Linked DNA regions of Homo sapiens: region 2 is linked to region 1. The links come from fine-mapping of genetic effects on gene expression. A gene starts in region 1. The other region holds a variant in brackets. All regions are shown on one strand. Distances are from middle to middle. Region 1 holds the start of GPLD1 (glycosylphosphatidylinositol specific phospholipase D1). Region 2 overlaps GPLD1 (glycosylphosphatidylinositol specific phospholipase D1).

Region 1 (5,239 bases):
TTCATCCTCTCCCCCATTTTCTTTTTCTTTTTTTTCTTTCACTTTTTTTTTTTTTTTTTTTTTTGAGTCAGGGTCTTACTCTGTCGCCCAGGCTGGAGTGCAATGGCACGATCTCAGCTCATTGCAACGTCTGCCTCCTGGGTTCAAGTGATTCTCCTGCCTCAGCCTCCAGAGTAGCTGGGAGTACAGGTGCGCGCCACCATGCCTGGCTAATTTTTGTATTGTTTAGTAGAGATGGGGTTTCACCATGTTGGCCAGGCTGGTCTTGAACTCCTGACCTCAGGTGATCTGCCCACCTCGGCCTCCCAAAGTGCTGGGATTACAGGCATGAGACACTGTGCCCAGCCTCTTCTCCCCCATTTTCTAGACTGGCCCACATAAAGCTTGAGACCCTCTGGCTTTCAAACCTGTATTCTCCCTACTCACTCCTTAATGTAACTGTATGTTTACTTTTCACCTTGGGTCTCTATTTCCAGAAGAGTTCTAAATGGTAGAATCATGCTGTCTTGTTTATAACAAAGCCACCTATATTAGGAAAGGGGGGTGTGGGGCAGAAAGAAAAATATTTCCATATGCTTATTATTTGTCAGATAGTAATATTGTGAGCTACGTTTTAACTTTCTTTAAAGTCATATCTTTGATGTTTTTATTGTTACCAAAGTAATACAAACTTCATAAAACTGCAAGCAATATTGTCATATAAAGACCATATTCATAACTATCACACTAAGCAAATAATTTCCTCTTATTTTATTACATTTATACGTTTATGTCATTCTGAATCTCAAATACAAAAAAATGCATAATGAGAAATTGAGACATTTGGGATTAGTATTGTTTGGTAACTGAACCCATTCCTTTTTTTTTTTTGAGGTGGGGTCTTGCCCAGGCTGGAGTGCAGTGGTGTGATCTCAGCTCACTGCAACCTTCACTTCCCAGGTACAGGCGATGTTCCCGCCTCAGCCTCCTGAGTAGCTTGGACCATAAGTGCATGCCACCATGCCCGGCTAATTTTTGTTTTTGTTTTTTTCTTGGTAGAGACGGGATTTTGCCATGTTGCACAGGCTGGTTTTGAACTCCTGGCCTCAAGCCATCTGCCCGCCTTGGCCTCCTAAAGTGCTGGGATTATAGGCGTGAGCCACCACACCTGTTCTGAACCCATTTCTTTGGTGCTTTTTGGATGGGTTTGTTGTATTATATATGGTTAGATATCTTTTCTAGCAGTATTTTTTTCCCCTGTAACCATTGATTGACTGCTCTTGGATGTTCTGAGAGACAATATCCAAAGTCCCAATTAATAATTGTGACTCCCTCACGCACAGTCTGTAGAAGGCCCAGAGTGACAGGGAGGCAAACTCAAAGGCCTCTGGTGGCCAGAAGGGGTGTGGAAACCTGCACACATTGCATGGATGGTGGGGACTGGAGGAGCAGGACATGCTCTATCAGGGGGCAGCTGGCTCTTTGGCTGCAGCTGGTTGTCGTGTCACATGGGAGCGTCAGTTCATGATGCCAGTTCTTTTGTTTTTAAGAGAGCCAGAAATCTAGATTTCTACGTGAATTTTCTCATTTAGAAAAAGTTCATAAACTTGATTTAAGTTTATAAAACATCCTGTTAGCCAAACAAAACACGTAGGCATATGGCCTCTGGACTAATCAGGAGTAGCTGGGCCTACTGCCCCTCAGGTCTGGGGGTAGCTGCGGGATTTCTTTCCTTGGGGCTGTGCACATGGCTGTGTTAAGCTTACAGGGGAAACTGTTGGGGCGACAACTGTTGTCAAATCATTCCACTTTCTTTTTTTCTTTTCTTTTTTTTTTTTTGAGACAGGGTCTTGCTCTGTCACCCAGGCTAGAGTGCAGTGGTGCAATCTCGGCTCACCGCAATCTCCACCTCCTGGGTTCAAGAGATCCTCCCACCTCAGCCTCCCCAGTAGCTGGGACTACAGTCACGTGCCACCACACCTGGCTAATTTTTGTATTTTTAGTAGAGACGGGGTCTTCACTATGTTGATCACGCTGGTCTCAAACTCCTGACCTCAGGTGATCCACCAGCCTCAGCCTCCCAGAGTGCTGGGATTACAGGTGTGGGCCGCCACGCCCAGCCAAATCATCCCACTTTCTATTCATCCTTTCATTTGGCAAACCTGAAGTGAATACTATTTCCTCCCACTCTTTTAGGAGCCCATCTCTTGCTTTTAATGTAAAATATGCATAATTTGTGTTTTAAGATTACCATCAGTTTCATGAAGAGCTTAATTTTTCCCATGGATGAAGTGTAAGTGGGTACCTGATAATATATCGTGAGCTTAACATTTTCCAAACCCTGTTTCTTGGCCCTAAATCTGCCCCCTTCCTTCCACCTCCCAAGTGGAATTGACATCTTTGCTTCAGCTGCAGGAATCTGACCTTGCAACAGGCTCTGGATAAGCCCTATTAGAACAGCCAGAGGTAGAGAGACCAGGAGTGGCTGCTCTTGTGTAATCCCATACAAGTGTCAGTATCTGTTGCCAAATACTGAAAAGGAAGCCAGTTCCAGCTGATTACCATAAAACTTTCCCAGCACTTGTGGCTTGGGAGGCGGAGGAAGCAGGACAGCCTGATAAATGTGTAGAAAGGATGCATGAGAGATCCACCCTTGTAAGGTGAGGTGGTCTAATATGTTGACTATCTGCACAGGTGAGCCTTTTTATAGAAAGCAAAAAATATCTGGAGACAACTTTGCTTGCATCTCTACACAAATTTCATGTTAAAATGAAATCCAGAAAAAACCTCGGTCAGAAGATGCAGTGCTTCTGGCCTAAGGCTTTTCAGATTTCAGTTTATCCTCCCAACCCCACCCCCCAGGAGCACAGAGTTTGTTTGCTGTTCTGGTGAAGCTAAACAGTAGTTGGACAGTTGACTTCATTGGAAAACGATATTATTTTGAAATGAGGCTTGGTTTCCTCGGTCAGTGACCTGCTTAGAGAGAAGCGGTGGGTCTGCACCTGGATTTTGGAGTCCCAGTGCTGCTGCAGCTCTGAGCATTCCCACGTCACCAGAGAAGCCGGTGGGCAATGAGATCATGTCTGCTTTCAGGTTGTGGCCTGGCCTGCTGATCATGTTGGGTTCTCTCTGCCATAGAGGTTCACCGTGTGGCCTTTCAACACACGTAGAAATAGGTAAGTACTGGTGTCTTGTTATGTTGTTGAGAGGACAATACATCTGTCAAAGACATTAAGGAAGAGACTGAAAATCCCGCTCGTGGATTGATACAGTTTCCCCTGGGCACTGAGCTGAGTGGCCTGACAGCAGGGAGGAGAAGCCGGTGATTGCAGTCATCCAGGGATAGGGATTGGCAGCATGACTTCAGTTAAGGGGCAAATAAGAAAGAGAGCTGATGCCCCATTGGTCATGGGACCCCTGTGTGTTTCTCTGGGTGGGGAAATAGTGAGAGGCTCAGTGAACGAGAGGTTGCAACGTGGCAGCAGAACTGACAGAATGGGAGAGGAACAAGATGGGTGGAATATGGCAGGAGTGAGAAATGTACTTTTGTTGTTTTTACATGTCCAAGGACAGGCATTTCCAAGTATATGTAAAGAGCCATATGTGGCCATGGGAGTGGGTCCCTGAGTCAAATTGCTGTAAAAGTGCTTGGCTTCAGGAAGGTCAAGAAAGTAAGGGAGTTTAGTTATCCACATGCACGGTGCCAGGAAGATGGCAGGAGTTGGAGAGCAGAAGGGTACAGCAAGCCAGTGCCACCGACCTTAGGGGCAAGGGCAGAGTCATCCTGGATATAGGGAGATGGCACCACAAAGAGTTATTTAAAATTTTTATTTTTCTAGCTTTATTGATGTATAATTGACAAAAATTGTATAAATTTAAGATATACAACATGATGTGTTGATATATGTATGCCTTGTGAAATGATTAGCACAATCAAGCTAATTAACACATCCGCCCCCCCCACATAGCTACCATGTTTTTTGCATATGGGCTGAGAACACTTAAGATCTTTCTTAGCAAAAGGATTTGGTTCTTGTATGAAGTGTATTTGTAACATGTTTTAACGCATGGAAAACGTGAGTCAATTTGTAATAGAATTAGCTGTGATAACATTCTACAGCAATTTTCAGATTAATTTCAGATATACCTGATGTTCTGAGTTTTCTTTTTTTTTTTTTTGAGACGGAGTCTCGCTCTGTCCGCCATGCTGGAGTGCAGTGGCGCAATCTCGGCTCACTGCAAGCTCCGCCTCCTGGGTTCACACCATTCTCCTGCCTCAACCTCCCGAGTAGCTGGGACTACAGGTGCCCGCCACCACGCCTGGCTAATTTTTTTGTATTTTTTTTTAGTAGAGATGGGGTTTCACCATGTTAGCCAGGATGATCTCGATCTCCTGACCTTGCGATCCGCCTGCCTCGGCCTCCCAAAGTGCTGGGATTACAGGCGTGAGCCATCGCGCCTGGCCTGAGTTTTCTTTAATTTAGATAAAAATTATAACAGAATTTTATAGTTGTACCACCTCCAGAAGTTTCAAAGAATAATAAGATTATAGGCAAAAAATGAAAATTTATCAGTGCAAAATAGACATATATACTGAGCTACGATGGGCAAGAACCTGTTATCACAGAATTTGACTATCTGAAAGGACACTAGAAGTCACCGAGTCCAGTTCTCTTCTTTTACAGATGAAGAAACTGATACTAGACAGTTTTACAGCTAAGTTTTCAGTGGCCTGGCCTAGAATTACATGTCCTGACAGCTGGTCCGGCGTTCTTTCCATTAAAAATGTACTGCTAGAAGGGAGTCAGGAAACAATGGAAAAGAGGATCAGACTTAGGTTCTAGTTCCAGCCATCCAGTAAAGTAGATGTGTGATTCTGAGCAATTCACTTTTTACCTACCTCTCAATTCTATAAAATGAGGGGGTTGAACTTCTTAAAGAATTCTAAAGTGTCTTGCAGTTCTATGTTCTGTGAAGTTGAAATTGCCAAAACTACAGAGTAAGCTGATGAGGAACAAATATAAATGGAAATACTCCATTTTTAATCCTTAGTGTTTAAAAATTTACAAGACAGATTGCATCTGAAATTTTAATAAAACCAGATAATTGCTTGCCCTTCTTCATTAAGTACCAAACAAAGGTCCTAATGGACATTTAAAGAATAATATTTATGTGAACATAATTGAAGGCATCTCCTGAAATAGAATCTGCACGGATTCTGAGAATTTTTTTACATAGAAGAAGACCAAAACTCCATCAT
Region 2 (5,239 bases), 55 kb after region 1:
GAACTCAGAGGTCCTGGGGTCAGGACACAATCACTTGCCCATGTTTTGTGGGCCCCAGCTGTCTGCAGTTCTTGCAGTTCTGTAGCGTTTGTGCCCAGAGCTAAAGTCCCACTGGACTCGGTGTTATTATGTATGGGAGCACAGGGAAGCGGCCTCTTCTCTAGACCAGCGAGATTAGGAAAGGCTTCCCAGAGGAGGGGACACCTGAGCCAAATTCTGCAGGGTGACAGGAGTAGCCAGCAGAGGGATGTGGACAGGGGAGCACGCGGAGCATATGCCTCTATTCCAGGCAGAGAGCACATCATGTCCAAAGGCCCAAATTTAAGACATAGATTGGGCTGTGGTTTAAGTTCATTTTGGTGAAGTGTGGGTGAAAAGGTTAATGGCGCTAGATCCCCAAGTGGGAGTCAGATTCTGTAAGGCCTTGTGAAGAGTTTGGACTCCATCCAGAGTCCACTTGCGTTTGGATGTGTCAGTCATGGGGGTGACCTAGTTTGTGATACGAGAAAATAAAAAGGTGGCTGTGTGGAGACTGTATTATGGGGATAAGACTGGAAAAAAGAATACCTGCCTGGAGGGAAATCACTGAAGCTCTCTGGTGTTTGTGCCTTGGTGCCCAAGCTGGTTGTACCTCCCTGACTGCCGGAGATGACCAGCTCCGAAACCGACTGTCCTGTAGGATCCCGAGTGATCAGTGTCACTTGAGGATGGGGTGCTATTCCGTGTTCTGTAATGCCTTCCTTTCTGTGAGGCCAGCAGGAACTGTGGTTCGTTTCAGATGACGTGTCTAAGGTGGCATTCCTGACCGTGACCCTACACCAAGGCGGAGCCACTCGCATGTACGCACTCACATCTGACGCGCAGCCTCTGCTGCTCAGCACCTTCAGCGGAGACCGCCGCTTCTCCCGATTTGGTGGCGTTCTGCACTTGAGTGACCTGGATGATGATGGCTTAGGTAAGAAAGGAACAGGACCCTTTGACAAGAATTGAGTCCCTTTGCCCAGGGGGTGGGTCCCCTAATTGGGTCATCTGGGCTCTGCCCTTATAATTGACAGCCCAGTGGCCCAAGGACCTTTAGACAGATCTTGAATGAGGCAAGACCAGAGAGGGAGTTGCACTTCTTGAAGCTGGTAATATGAGAATCACCTGTAGTAATTGCTATTGATGAATGAAGTAGGAAACAAAAGCCTTTGCCAGGATGAAATCACAGCCGACTAAAGGAGATACTAATATTATTTGTAAGAGGTTGGGTTAGGATCCAGTAGCGGAACAAGGAAAAGATGACAGTGAGGAGTCAAATACTTCCTTCTGTCGGTTTTTATTGTTTTCAGATGAAATCATCATGGCAGCCCCCCTGAGGATAGCAGATGTAACCTCTGGACTGATTGGGGGAGAAGACGGCCGAGTATATGTATATAATGGCAAAGAGACCACCCTTGGTGACATGACTGGCAAATGCAAATCATGGATAACTCCATGTCCAGAAGAAAAGGTAAGTGTTCTACAAAATTCTATAACTTATTGGGAAAGGATCACTAATTGCTGATTCCTTGTTAACTCATGTCCACTATAAAGTGCTTACCTGAATTCATACCTCCTAGGGTCAGGACACCATCATCTGTCCATGTTTTGTGGGCCCCAGCTGCCTGCAGTTCTTACAGTTCTGCAACATTTGTGCCCAGAGCTAAAGTCCCACTGGACTTGGTGTTATGTAGGTCCCTGGTCACACAGCCTGCCACTGCTTGGTTAGGCACCCACAGCACAGAAGAAAGAAAACAGGCCATGGCCATTGGAGTTTCTCTTTTTAAAATAGAGACGGGTTCCTGTTCCATTGCCCAGGCTGGAGTGCAGTGGTGTGATCATGGCCCACTGCAGCCTCAAACTCCTGGGCTCAGGTGATTCTCTTGTCTCAGCCTCCCGAGTAGCTAGGACTACAGGCATGTGCCACCACACCCGGCTAATCTTTTTATTATTTGTAGAGATGGGGCCTCACTATGTTGCCCAGGCTGGTATTGAACTCTTGGGCTCAAGCAGTTCTTCTACCTGGCCTCACAAAGTGCTGGGATTACAGGCATGAGCCACCATGCTCGGCCAGCCACTGGAGTTTCATTAAAACGTCCTCTCTTTTGCTTTTTGTTTCATTTCTTTGTTTATTCCTTTTTTGGGTGAGTTTCCTTAAGTTACATTTCCTGGGCCTAAAGCATTTGGCCATTATTTAACTTTTTTTTTTTTTTTTTTTTTTTGAGACAGCGTCTGGCTCTATTGCCCAGGCTGGAGTGCAGTGGCACGGTCTCGGCTCACTGCAACCTCCTCCTCCCAGGTTCAAGCCATTTTCCTGCTTCAGCCTCCCGAATAGCTGGGACTACAGGCATGCACCACCACGCCTGGCTAATTTTTTGTATTTTTAGTAGAGACAGGGTTTCACCATGTCGGCCAGGCTGGGATTACAGCCCAAAGTGCTGGGATAACAGGCATGAGCCACCGTACCCCACCTATTTTAAAAAATTTAAAATTATTTTTTAAATTGCAAAATTAGTGAAAGTTTATTATGGAAATTTTAGAAAATACAAAAATGTACAAAGAGAATTAAAAATTATCTACCTAAAATTCCACTCTGCAGAGCTAATACCTGCTTACCTTTAGAGCGGATCCTGCTAGTATTTTTCCTATGAATTTAATTACTACCATTTATTGTGCATTTAGTATGCATATGCTAAGAACTATGTATCATTTAATCCCCATAAAAGCTATGAAATTGGCCGGGCGCAGTGGCTCACGCCTGTAATCCCAGCACTTTGGGAGGCTGAGGCGGGCGGATCACAAGGTCAGAAGATCGAGACCATCCTGGCTAACACTGTGAAACCCTGTCCCTACTAAAGATACAAAAAATTAGCCGGGCTTGGTGGCGGGCGCCTGTAGTCCCAGCTACTC[G/A]GGAGGCTGAGGCAGGAGAATGGCGTGAACCCGGGAGGCGGAGCTTGCAGTGAGTCGAGATCATGCCACTGCACTCCAACCTGGGCAACAGCAAGACTCTGTCTCAAAAAAAAAAAAAAAGAAATTAATATTATGCCCATTTACAGATTAAAAAAATTAAAGATCTCAGCTGAGTGTGGTGGCTTATGCTTGTAATCCCAGCACTTTGGGAGGCTGAGGCAGGAGGATCCCTTGAGCTCAGGAGTTCAGCACCAGCTTGGGCAACATAGGGAGACCCTGTCTTTTTTTTTTTTTTTTTTGAGACGGAGTCTCGCTCTGTCGCCCAGGCTGGAGTGCAGTGGCGTGATCTCGGCTCACTGCAACCTCCACCTCCCAGGTTCATGCCATTCTCCTGCCTCAGCCTCCCAAGTAGCTGGGGCTACAGGCGCCCACTACCACGCCTGGCTAATTTTTTTGTATTTTTAGTAGAAACGGGGTTTCACCGTGTTAGCCACGATGGTCTTGATCTCCTGACCTCGTGATCCGCCCAAGACCCTGTCTTAAAATAAAAAAATTAAAGATCAGCGAGGAAGTTTATTCAAGGTTACACTGCCAGGAAGGCAGGGCACAACAGAGATTTGAACCAAGATCTGATTCTAAAGCCTACCCTTAAGTATTACACTATGTGCGTGCATATTTTGGTTAACAATTGTGATCCTATTGTGCATAATTTGTGCATAATTTTGTAACTTTTTTTTTTTTAATGGAGTCTCACTCTGTCATCCAGGCTGGAGTGCAGTGGCATGATCTCGGCTCAGTAAAACCTCCACCTCCCAGGTTCAAGCGATTCTCCTGCCTCAGCTTCCTGAGTAGCTGGGACTACAGGCGCACACCACCGTGCCTGGCTAATTTTTGTGTTTTTAGTAGAGACGGGGTTTCACCACGTTGGCCAAGCTGGTCTCGAACTCCTGACCTCCAGTGATCCGCCTGCCTCAGCCTCCCAAAGTGCTGGGATTATAGGTGTGAGCCACTGTGCCTGGCCGTAACTTGATTTTTCTTTCTACCTAACAATATACCGAGAACATTTTCTTATGTTATCTGATATTCTTATATAATATGATATTTACCGGCTGATGAGTATTTTATCTACAGACAAACCATAGTTTATTTACCCATTATTCAGGCAACCATTGTTAGTCAATTGTGCCATTTCCAATTTTCATTGTTTTAAATAATATGGTAAATAGTCACATAAATGTTTTTATACATCTGGTTATTTTTCTGACCTGTATTTCTATAAGTAGAATTTCTGGGGTCAAAGGGCATGCACATTTGTAAGGCTAATCAAGAAATGTAGAAATGAGGCTGGGCGTGGTGGCTCATGCCTGTAATCCCAGCACTTTGGGAGGCTGAGGTGGGTGGATCACCTGAGGTGAGGAGTTCGAGACCGGCCTGGCCAACGTGGTGAAACCGCCTCTCTACTAAAAATACAAAAAAATTAACCGGGCGTGGTGGTGGGCGCCTGTAATTCCATCAACTCACGAGGCTGAAGCGGGAGACTTGCTTGAACCTGGGAGGCAGAGGTTGCAGTGAGCTGAGATCACGCCACTGCACTCCAGCCTGGGCGACAGAGCAAGACTCCTTCTCAAAAAAAAAAAAAAAAAAAAAAAAAAGTAGAAATGAGGGTATAAGGGTATAATTAAAATTGATTTTAAAAAGCCACACAAACAGTAATAACATTGTCTCTCTCCTCAATTTTTTTCTTCAGGCCCAATATGTATTGATTTCTCCTGAAGTAAGTATCCCTTGAAAGACTGAAGAAAGAAAAATTACCAAAACAATGCCCCTTGGTTTATTTTAAACGGATAAAGTATTACACTATGTTCTTCAAAGCCCATTAACAGACGGCATGTTTTACAGGCCAGCTCAAGGTTTGGGAGCTCCCTCATCACCGTGAGGTCCAAGGCAAAGGTGAGCCCAAGGACTGAACTTCATTGATGTTTATGTTAGTACTACGGGTGGGATTTGGTGGTCTCACTTGTTAGGTTTATTTCAGATTTTATTTTTATTTGAAAAGGAGAGGAACACACAGAAAGTAACATTCACATATAATCTCATCACTTCCTTGGTGGAAAGTTTCCCTTTTTACTCTTCCTATTTTATCCTCTACAGCAGGGGTTGGGGCCAAGTCGTCTGCCACCTAATTTTGTAAAGCCATGAACTAAAAAAGTCAGCTCATGTTGAGATGGTTGAAAAGAAATCAAAACAGAATGTTTTGTAACATATGAAGTTTAAACGGCAGTGCAGTTTCAGCGCCCACACAGCTGTA

Evidence for each region.
Region 2: its variant is fine-mapped to the expression of GPLD1 in tibial artery (GTEx, PIP 0.96).

What each region holds. Positions count from the first base shown.
Region 1 is chr6:24,487,331-24,492,569 of GRCh38, reverse strand. GPLD1 (glycosylphosphatidylinositol specific phospholipase D1) reads left to right here and starts at 2,992. Exons shown (of 25, transcript NM_001503.4): 1 at 2,992-3,155. The coding sequence starts at 3,059.
Region 2 is chr6:24,432,829-24,438,067 of GRCh38, reverse strand. It overlaps GPLD1 (glycosylphosphatidylinositol specific phospholipase D1), which reads left to right. Exons shown (of 25, transcript NM_001503.4): 21 at 779-955; 22 at 1,332-1,492; 23 at 4,679-4,705; 24 at 4,831-4,881. Among named protein-coding and RNA genes, the nearest start is that of MRS2, 33 kb to the right of the region's middle. The variant G/A (reference allele first, on the strand shown) is at 2,932.